Homo sapiens: one gene and its partners. The protein of the gene in region 3 interacts with the protein of the main gene of each other region in a pairwise test. Each region holds a gene or a part of one and is shown on either strand. Other genes may lie near its edges. The genes, in order: RSPH1, CASS4 and MTMR2.

Region 1 (3,753 bases), on a different chromosome or scaffold from region 3:
TGCAATTTTCCTATCCTTCAGAAAATAAATGTTCCTTAGCACCTAATACATGGGTATAGAGTGAATATAGTAAATAATAAAATGCTGAAAGCATCCAGTAATGATTTAACATGGGTATCTCATAACATCACACTGTATTTCTTAAATATACATAATAAAATTTATTAAAAATTAAAATTAAGAAATTGAATTGGATGTATATAGACTTATTATAACACAAGTACTGACACACTACATTGAGGACTTCAGAAATAAACGTCTGTGCAATTCTTGCCCTTTTCTAGCACTGTTTGGACCACTAATTCCTGCCTAGAATATAAGGTAAAAATCTGCGACCTCACAGATTTGTTTCAGGGTTAGTTTACATCAAAATGTACAAAAGTCCCCTCCTTCTATCCAAGAGGCTTCCCAATACACCCAACACTGAGCCGCTGGGGTGGCTGAATAAGACAGAAATCCTTTAAAATGACCCCAAATGTGATCTGAACCTAAAAATTATAGGCACTAAAAAGTTACAAATCAGTGGGGCCATTTGAGGAGACAAACTAGAAATCTTGCTGGTCAAGTGTTGCAGGTTGGGTTCACCTAGAAACAGACCCTGAACAAGTGATTTTTTTTTTTTTTTGAGACAGAGTCGCTCTGTTGCCCAGGCTGGAGTGCAGTGGCGTGATCTCGGCTCACTGCAACCTCTGCCTCCCGGGTTCAAGCCATTCTCCTGCCTCAGCCTCCCGAGTAGCTGGGATTACAGGTGCCCGCCACCATGCCCGGCTAATTTTTTGTATTTTAGTAGAGACAGGGTTTCACCGTGTTGCCCAGGCTGGTCTCAAACTCCTGAGCTCAGGCAATCTGCCCACCTCGGCCTCCCAAAGTGCTGGGATTACAGGTGTGAGCCACCGCGCCTGGCCTGATTTTTTTAAGTGCTCTCCTGGGAGAAAGTAGTAAAGAGGGCAGGGAAGTAGACATGAAAGGGCAGGCAGCTAAGGAAGGATGCCTTTGCAGGTGAAGTCCCAGACTTGGCCTAATCCAACAGGGACTCTGGGGGCATCAATCGCACTGCAGACTTTGTCCTGCTTCTTGCACTAGCTACTGGCTGTCTGGCCGGATGTGAATTTCAGGCACTTCTGGCTCTCCATACTGGGCAGGTAGTTCCAGCGCACAGAGGTGATAGCTTGAGTAGCAAATCAGGCGGAAGCTGGGAGATGAGTGCCCAGAGCTAGCAAAAAGGTCTGGGCAGGCACTGACAGCACCACTGCAGAGTCGCTAGATTTTTCAGTTAATTCTGAAAGTACCTCAACTCTGTACTGTGCATGCAGACCATAGTGGCTGAGGTTCCCTATCTGTCAGCCATGGAGAGGTCACTCTCTGGAGTAGGGAGGAACTACTCTCTGGGTGATAGAAATATTCCCACACAGAACCCAGCTCACAGGCTGGATGTGCCCTCTTTCTCCTCTCTGCTGCCTAACTCAGGAAATAACTCCAAAGACCTGGGTCAGTTCAGATGGGGACTGAAGAAAGCACATGTGAGGATACGCCTATAAGGTAATATCTTCAGGAACCCTCTCCTGAGCCCAGGGCCTCCTCAGCATTTCTTGGAGGCTGCCAGGAAGCAACTATCCTCCATGCATCTAAATGCCGGGGGAGCAAATCTCAGCTACAGAAATGACTTATTCAAGGGCAGTATGGCAGCGTGGGATGATCTGCTCATCCGAGAAAACTGCCTCGATGGGAATTAACACAGGGAGGAGGAAACTTCCAAAGCCTTCCGCTGGGAAATCTTTGCCTTTAATGGGAGGCAGGATGGGGGTGGGGGAAGAACGAGGCGGCATGTGGTAACCAGACGTCACAGCGTTTCACTTTTCACCATCAACTTCCAGGACGCACGCAGGTGTGTCTGGCGTGGCCTTCGTCCCTGCCGGGGATCCTGGGGAGCTGTGGCTCAGACCTCTGGTTTCTGCGCCTCCTCACTCTCCAAACCCAACCTCGAGGTTCCCCCGCCGCTGCGCACCCTGGGAAGCCCTTTCTCACCAGGAGCTCTCACCCCAATATCATTCTCTCCCTCCTCCTCCAACTCCTCCGAGCCCAGGTCCGACATGGTCTCGCCCCAGCCTGGATCACAGCCGCAGCGCCTCTAGCAGGTGGGTAGCAACCGCCTCCACCGCCGCGTCCCGCGTCGCCATGGAGACGCGGCCGGTCCCGCCTCCCTCCCAGCCCGGAAGATGGGGAGCGGGGACAGGCGACGCGGACGAAGCGGGAGGAGCCACTGGCAGCCTTTGCGTACTGTCATAGCAACGGGAAGGGCACCTCGACCAATCACCGCCCGGGAATACGGAGGGGCGGGGCGGAAGGGACGAGGTGGAGCCAGTGGCAGCACTCTGGTGCCGTCATAGCAACGAGGGGCCGCTTCGGCCAATCACTGCTCGGGAAGCGAGGGGGCGGGGACTGGGCAGGGCCTGAGCGGGTTCTGTGCCTGGCTGCCCACCGGCTCTCTGACCTGGACCTCGCCGTCGCTGGCCCCTGAAATCCATCACTTTTGTCGGCTGTTCTGTGACGCCACAACGAGGAGCCACCTGGGTACTGGGCCCTCAAGAGGAAGGACGCGGGAAACGCGTCCGGGCCAACTCTCGAGAGGGTTTCACCCCTGCCCAGTGCGGGCACTGCCCGCTCCCTTCCGCCCCCAGGCCTCGCAGGCCCCTCCGGGGATGCTGCCCACCCCCACTTACCTTTCTAGGCTCTGCTGACCCTTCGGGATTCGCGGCTAGCTGTGATGTGTCCGCCAAGATCTCTTCTCTTGTCTGTAAACAACTTCACTCTCAAGGAGGCAGCTCTGGCCTCTCAGCAGGTGCGGCCTACAGTGATGTCCGTCCGGGTTTTACATCCTTCCCCGACCTCGACATGAGTCCCAGCCCCCTCGGGCCTCTGACTCTCAGGTGTCCCCTACGATCGCCGTCCTCTCCTCTCGCTCCTGGCTCCCCTACACTGTCACACACCCACACAATCACAGACGCACACGCATGTACACGTGCAGGCTTGGAAATCTGCTTTACCTGACGCACTCCGCCTGCCGAAGGCCCCTCACATCTCCCATTTCCTCTGCCATCATCCCAGACTGCAAAGCTGTGTTATTTGTTGTTGCTGCAGGAGCTGGGGAGGAGTGACTGAATAACTATAGGATTTGGTCTTGATGGGAGAATCCCAGAAGCCAAATCCACGCGGTGAATAAGCTGCTGATCTTCCAGAGCACACATCCCCTAGAGATTCTTCCCAATGCTAATATGAAAGGTTACAACCATAACCCATCATCAGGCCCAAATATATTACTTACTGAATAAATACACAAGTTACAACAACACACGAGATTCCAAAATTATGTCGTTTTTTAGATGCAAAGATAAAAATGTTGTAAACACCAAAATTTAACAGCTTTTCTTATGGGGAAAAGTGGGGAGTTAGGGATAACAGATGATTATTATTTTCTTCTCTACATATTGGCAGTTACCCAGTTACTACAATTAAGCATGTCCTATTTTTATAATAAAATGCCAGAAGCATTTTAAATGTTAGAAATCTAGAATGGTAACATAAGTATATGCAAATAAATACTCGTTTTTTACATTTAAAATGTCAGAAATTTAGCTTTCAAATTTGTCCTAACAATGACAGTAACCAGTGTTTACTAAGTTCTGACACTGTGTGTGGGCACTGTTTTAAGAATTTTATGAGTTATCTTATTAAATCCTCACTATCATTCCTCCA
Region 2 (3,653 bases), on a different chromosome or scaffold from region 3:
TACTACATATGGAGAAAGGGGACCAGGCACTTGGACTTGGAAGCATTTAGAACAGTGCCTGGTGTGCAGCAGGCATTCAATATTTGTTGACGGAATGAAAGGTACATTGTGTTCCTGAATCAAACGTAACACACATAAATAGAAGCTATCTACTCCTTGATTTACTATTTTTTCTGCTCACAACCACTCCCCACCCGACACGGCGACCAGCGGTCTCAAACATCAAAAGTTCTACTTTTTTAAAGACAGAGTACACGATTCTCCTTCGTGTCCATGGAGAAGAGCAGGGTACCACCCCAGTGGAAAATGAAGCCACCTACACTGAAGTCTCCACGTTTACCAGCTTTTGCTCTTTCCTACTTACAGCCCATCTGTTGCACAGCAGCCTGAGTGATCTAGAAAACATAAATTAGATCATGTCATCTCCTGCTTTAAGTGGGCTGGTGGTTTCCTTTGCAATTAGAATGGCTTCAAAGCTCTTACACGGCCGACCAGGCCCTATGTTATCCTGCTTACACCTCAGATCTCACTTCTGACCCCTCTCTCTCTTGGTTTACTCTTCTTTGACCCCATGGGTCTTTACAGGGGCCCTGTACTATGCTGAATACCTTCCCACTGCAGGCCCTTGGCATCTGCTGTTCCCTCTTCCTGGAAAGCTTTTCCCATCTCTTGGGTGTTCAGAGTGGCCTTTTCCATCCATCGCCTCCATCAGATCCCCCTGTTTTCTCCTCTTTCTGGCAGTTCTCACCACCTGAAACCATGGGTCTATTTACTCACTGTCATGCTCACTCCATTGGAATGTCAGCTCTGTCTTGATCACCCTGAACCCCCGGAGCCCAATAACTATGCATTGGGTGAATGGCTGAGGCATGGATGGTGAGCTGTGTTTTCGAGTTGGGTGTTGTGTCTGGGCTGTTTTGCCTCGTGGAATAGATGAAGGGAGGAAGTTGCTGGGAAATGCTGGAGGGAGGCTACAGGTCTTTGTGACCTTGATTTCAATAGCAACAGCTTGCATCTAAGGCAACATCTGACCATGGACAAGGAGGGGGACAATTGTCAAGAGAACAGGCTGAGTGGCAGCTTAGGCTGACGCCAGGTAGGGGTTAGAGAGCTGAGAGTCAGGAATGACCTCCGTTGCCAAACACCTGCTGACTAGAAAGTAGTGCTGTTCCTATCCTCACAGCGGGGCTGCAGCCAGGGCTCCACCTGCACTCCCTGTAAGCTCCCATTCGTTCACACACTACCACAAAGCATGTATTGAGCAACTACTTTGTGCAGGCACTGTTGTAGGCACCGGAGATGCAGCACTGAGTAAGAAAGCCCAGGTCTGTCCCTCATGGAGTTTCGTTCCCAGAGAGGAAGACAGAGGAACAAACAAAGTGAGATAATTTCAGATCTTAATAAGTGAAGGTAAGATAGATGAGAGTGTTGGCGGTGGGCCTGTGTAGGGGGGAAGTGATTTGCACAGCGTGGTCCAGAGAGGCCTCTGGGTGAGGCGATGCTTGCTAGAGAGAGAAGAATCCAAGGCGGGGAACAGCAGGGGAGAAGGGGAAGGAACTGAGGCAGGAGAGCTGCTCGGAGTGGGATCTAATGGGCCCTGAAGGGCCAGGTCAGCTTTCTGCACACAATCCCATTTGCCCTTCAACAAAGACTGAGTTTGAAATGTCTTGCTCACCACCTCAGAGCTGCTAAAGGTACAAAGAGAACCTAAAACTGCTCTCCACTCACAAACGAAGCCTCACCAGGCTTTCTTGCCCAGAAGCACTGAAGCAAGCCAAGTCCCAGCAAGTGGTACACACTTCCAAGCCAACACATTTTGTCGTGTTTAAACCAACCTTGAGATGTGGAAGATTTTTTAAAAAATTCTACATTTTTACCTTGATCCTTCTTGAGTGGGTCCAAAACCATGCCACTCAGAGTTGAGATGGGAGAGAGACAAAAAAGATTTGCTCTTTAATTGAGGCTGAATTTAAAATGTGAAAGATAATCACATTTAAATGTTCTTACAGTATAAATATTGGACCATCCACTCTTCAGTAACATAGTAAAGATGCTTGCTTGAAAAATGCCTTCAGAAAACTGAATGAGCACATAGCTGTCTTTATAAAAGAAAGTACAGATTGTAGAGAAAATACTGGGGAAAGTAGGTTTAAAATAGAATCAAATATCAGAAATTCTCAGAAAATGATGGAAAATAAGTGCCAAAGCTTATTTCATTCAGTAAAATCCTCTTTCAATTCCTGGACATTTACTCCAGTGAGAAAATCATGTTATTGGGGAAAAAAGGGCTGTGTATGAAGATGCTAATTTCAATATTACCTGTAATGGCATGTGTGCATACACACACACACACACACACACACACACACGGAAGTAAACAGAATTTATAGCAAACAGGACTGAATCACTAAAGTACATTGCAGACTCTATTTTCGTAACTAAGGCATCTTGAAACTACCAAAAATCCAAAATAAGAACTTACGTATAATAAGCCCACTTATCCTCCTTGTCTTTTAGACAATTTTAGTTCTTTTAGAACTAAATTTCTGGCTGGGCGCAGTGGCTCACGCCTGTAATCCCAGCACTTTGGGAGGCTGAGACAGGCAGATAACTTGAGGTCAGGAGTTCGAGACCAGCCTGGCCAATATGGTGAAAACCCGTCTCTACTAAAAATACAGAAATTAGCTGAGCATGGTGGCACATGCCTGTAATCCCAGCTACTTGGGAGGCTGAGGCAGGAGAATTGCTTTAACCTGGGAGGTGGAGGTTGCAGTGAGCCAAGATCATGCCACTGCACTCCAGCCTGGACGACAGAGTGAAACTCCACCTCAAAAAAACCCACGAAAACTAAATTTCTAGTATTTCTTGAATGGAGTTGACTAGTTGGCTAGAGTTCCACAAACCAATGAATGAGGTGTTAAATTTACCACCTTTGAGGCCAGTGTTTCCTATCACTAATATCACGTGTTTTAAAAAAATTTCGCCTTGTTCTATAAAACAATTTTTAAAAAATAGAATAAATCAGTCTGGATATTACACAAAATCTGCCATGCACAAAGGTGAAAGCAGCTCTACTGGCAACGGAGCTACTGGCCAGCAGGTAGAATTAGGAACAGCTTGCGAGAACAGTCCCTGTTTACCATACGATGTACAAAGGCGAACTTCAGGGTCTGAAAGGCTATCTGCGGTGGCCCTGAATGAAAGGCAGGGTTGTTTTAAAGGCGAATGCCCCAAAGCTAAGGACCACTGACATGACATGACCCCTTGAAGCATTGTGCTACCATTTATAAAGCAATTGAGCAACAATGTAGGCATTAAGATTAATGAGATGGATCAACTGCACTAATATGAACTGAACACCAGTACGTATTGGTAGTTGCTAAAGGCAAGAAGCTCAACAGATCTTTACTTACAGCTCCTATTTGTGTAAAACCTTAAAACATGTATCTTATAGATGCATTGATAGTTTCTGTAGGGACACCCAAGAAACAGTTAACTGAGGATGCCTCTGAACTAGGTGTCGACAACTTGGGTGTTTCCTGGTACTGCGTGGGTGGGTGGGGGTGGCCTACGTAAACTGAGATGACATAGGCTGCTACACAAGGGCCTGTGGACCAAATCTAGATGGATGACCCATAAGTGAAGAATGACTG
Region 3 (3,653 bases):
TGGCTCACTGCAACATCCGCCTCCCAGGTTCAAGCAATTCTCCTGCCTCAGCCTCCCCAATAGCTGAGATTACAGGTGCCCGCCACCACGCCTGGTTAATTTTTGTATTTTTAGTAGAGATGCGTTTTCATCATGTTGGCCAGACTGATCTCGAACTCTTGACCTGATGTGATCCACCTGCCTCAGTCTCTGAAAGTGTTGGGATTATAGGCGTGAGCCACCATGTCCGGCCAAGATGATCATTATTAAAAAATAAGTTATGAATTTGTGAATATATCAAAATATGTAGACTGAACTGGGCCCAAAAGAATTAAGTCTAATTCATGAATCACCTTTTCTATTACTGCTAAATTTTGTTTTCTTCTATCAATGTCATACTAAAATAACATTTCTAATTGGAAATCCATTTTATATTTTAGAAACCAATTTCAAAACAGAGGTTCTATTTAATACAAAGCTTTTCAAACCAAAGAAAATCACATACATATTATAACATTTACCTTACACACAGTTTCTAGTCCATAAGAATTTTCACCTCGACTAGAAGCACCACCAATTTTTTCTACTCTATTTATCACACCAAGGGAAGCATCTAAAACAAATGGGGGATCCTAAAGAAGGAAAGAAAAAATAATTAAAACTGAGCAATTAATACTGTCCAATTATAGAGCTGATCAAAATCTTAATCAGAAATGCTTTAATTAGAAATGATCAGAAATGAACAAAACTAGCTACAAACAACACACTCATGTACATACAAAAATCTAATCTGACTCTTACCCGTTCCATGCTTTTGAAATATAACCTATAATTCGTGACAGTCAGAGTTCCTCGTACAGCGCCAGTGAATGGACATATATAAGTTACATCTTTGGCTGAAAAAGCAAGAAGTCCACAGTTTACTATACATTATGTGCTATTAAAACCTGCTATCTCATCTTATAAAATTGTTATGATTCCTAGACTAATTTATGCTGAAAAATAACAGAACCAGTAATTTCCAGAGACCTCAGAATCCTACAACCCAAGCTTCCATCCTTGCACTAATCTGGGGAAGAAACACAGAATTAAATGGGATAGGCTGAAAAGGTGGAGGGACTTCTCATCCCATGAGACAGAATGGAAGTAAACAAAGGGGCTACTATCCTGGCTAGATAAAACAGGTGTGGGTAGCTGCAGCAGAGACGGGTGAAAGAATACTGGTAATGGTGGTATCAACAATAAGCATGTCAAGGCACAGTCGCCATCATCTCATTGCAGTTTCTATGTAACCTCACCAATTTCCTGTCCAGTTTGTCAACATTCTTCTAAAAATGCAATGTCCAAAACATATGTTATTCCACAAACTCCTGATCTGATTAATACTTATGGGGAAAATTTTACAGGTGAAATGACACACATTTAAAATATAATTTCTTAGAAAAATAACAGTATAAGAAGAGGATATTGTACTGCTGACCAACCAATGCCAGACTTTGTAAAGAAATAATCACAAGTAATGTTTTATCAAATAAACAATGGATCTACATGGCATTATGTTTTGTAAAATATGCATTAACTGATTATGCAGGATAACTTAGGAATCAGTATCTCAAAATATTATTTAAAATGCCACAGTTCATAATTTCCAATACATGGTTTTTATATCTTAAAATATTCATAAATTCCTAGTATGTCATTATTACACCAAATCAGCAGATAAAGGAGTATCTTCATCATTCCAAGGAAGTAAGGGACAATTCTGTGGAGCAACAACTTTCTAAGACCCTTTCAACGGGCTTCTGGGAAAACTTGGGGCCATGAAATATATTTAATAAGGTATTACAACCTCCTGACTTTGCTTCTCATTCAACACTTCGAAGGACTGGCTGCTTTGTATGGAATTTGAAATGAGACTGATCTTTTCACAATCATTTCTAACCTTCAAAATAGTTCCCTTAGGAACATTTTAAGTATAAACTACTTTTTTAAATCGTTTCGAATGCATATTTCATTTAGAGGGAAGCTTTTAAAATTAAATGAACCCATCATTATACAAAAATACACAAACTTGCTTTGCACAAATAATATTTTTCCCTTATGAATTTTTACCTCAACTAGAAAAGCTTTATTCAAGGTTACTAAAACATTTCTGGATTCCTTCCACAGTCAATTTTCTTACTCATGTAAGAAAACTCAGCCTTATTATCCTATATCCCACCACAGGAATGTCATTCTCAGGCCAGTGCTTTTCTGTTACATCTTCCCCTTTATTCTAAAATCATGAGATAATATACATATAAAGATGCTTCTAAAGTTCTAAGTACAATACAAAAATTCAAGGGTTTATACCTATGTTACTATTATCATCATTAGTCTTTGCTTTGTTCTGTACCCTCTATCATTCCTCAAGAGATCATGACAATGGAGAAAAGAAGATAAATACAAGAAATTCTTAGACACTGACTGGATGTTAAGAGTCCAGAAAAGAAAAAAAGAGCAGTCTAGTACGACAACCAGATTTCTGACTTGAGTAAATGGACAGCTGGTATTGATGTCAACTGAGAGAGAGAATGCAAGAAAAAGAGTAAGTTTGGAGTTAAACGTGATGATTTCCATTTTGGAGATGTTGGGTATAAGGTTCCTATGGGATATTCAAGGATGTGTGTTTAAGATAGAGGCATTTGTTTACTTACATTAGGACAGGGGTTCACACTGGAGATAACAAATTTTGGAGTCATCAGCCAATATATGGCAAGTGATGTTACAAATTTAGATATGGTCAACCGAAAAGAGTATACAGGAGGGAAAAGGGAAATGGGTCAAGGATGAAGTCCTAGGGCGTGTTGCTATTAAAGGAAGAAGAGCCAACAAATGAGACTGAGTGGTAACTTGAAGTTCTTTAATAAAGCCATATTTCATAATGGGAGCTGCAATTACGGCATTAAGTTCAGAATAAGAAAAAGAAATTGTCACAATGCTAGATATAACCTTATTAGCTAGGTTATCTTCCTATGCCTTAGTTTCCTTCCTCACCTATAAAATGGGGTTGATGTTATTCTCAAGAATATACTCTCTGAGAATGACTGAGATAGTAAGCACTCAATAATAATAACTACTATCATTATATAATAGCCAATTCTGAAAAAATGTAAGTAGGTAGTTCAGATCAAGAGCTTGGTGTATATATAAGGCTAACTGGGGAAAAGAAAAAGACTGAGAGGTTATTCAATCAAGAGCCAAGAGCAAGAAAAGACAAATAGCATGCTAAGGACTAGGAAGCTAAATTTAGTAAATAATAATCCATTTAGAATACAGGTCCTGCCTTTGGCTTGTTTTTACACATAGAAATGACACCTAGCCAAGTAAAATTCAGCATTTTTAAAATCCTTTTTAAAAATTATGATTGGTAACAAAATGAAACATGGTAGTTATATTAACTAAGAAATCATTTACTTCATTCTTCTAACATATTACTTTATTTCTCAGAGTTTATGAGTAGATATCTGTAGATTATCACACAGATGAAACAAAACAAAAGCATGAGGAAAAAAAACACAGCTTGTAAGCTCATTTTCAGTTTCCAGTCCATATTATAAGTATTAGGCTGGGCAGAGAAGGGCATCTACATACAAACAGATGCAATGGAGATGATGTATTTCATCCAAAAATTA

Evidence for each region.
Region 1: the proteins of MTMR2 (region 3) and RSPH1 interact in a two-hybrid assay, tested with the Homo sapiens proteins (one large-scale study listed by BioGRID and IntAct).
Region 2: the proteins of MTMR2 (region 3) and CASS4 interact in a two-hybrid assay, tested with the Homo sapiens proteins (one large-scale study listed by IntAct).

What each region holds. Positions count from the first base shown.
Region 1 is NC_000021.9:42,494,095-42,497,847, forward strand, and holds the start of RSPH1 (radial spoke head 1 homolog), read right to left. Parts: upstream 2,131-3,753; 5' UTR 2,093-2,130; coding exon 2,039-2,092; coding exon of another isoform or gene 2,026-2,038; intron 1-2,025.
Region 2 is NC_000020.11:56,415,245-56,418,897, reverse strand, and holds part of CASS4 (cas scaffolding protein family member 4), read right to left. Parts: intron 1-3,653. UniProt on the Homo sapiens protein: Docking protein that plays a role in tyrosine kinase-based signaling related to cell adhesion and cell spreading. Regulates PTK2/FAK1 activity, focal adhesion integrity, and cell spreading.
Region 3 is NC_000011.10:95,861,492-95,865,144, forward strand, and holds part of MTMR2 (phosphatidylinositol-3,5-bisphosphate 3-phosphatase MTMR2), read right to left. Parts: intron 876-3,653; coding exon 781-875; intron 612-780; coding exon 501-611; intron 1-500. UniProt on the Homo sapiens protein: Lipid phosphatase that specifically dephosphorylates the D-3 position of phosphatidylinositol 3-phosphate and phosphatidylinositol 3,5-bisphosphate, generating phosphatidylinositol and phosphatidylinositol 5-phosphate.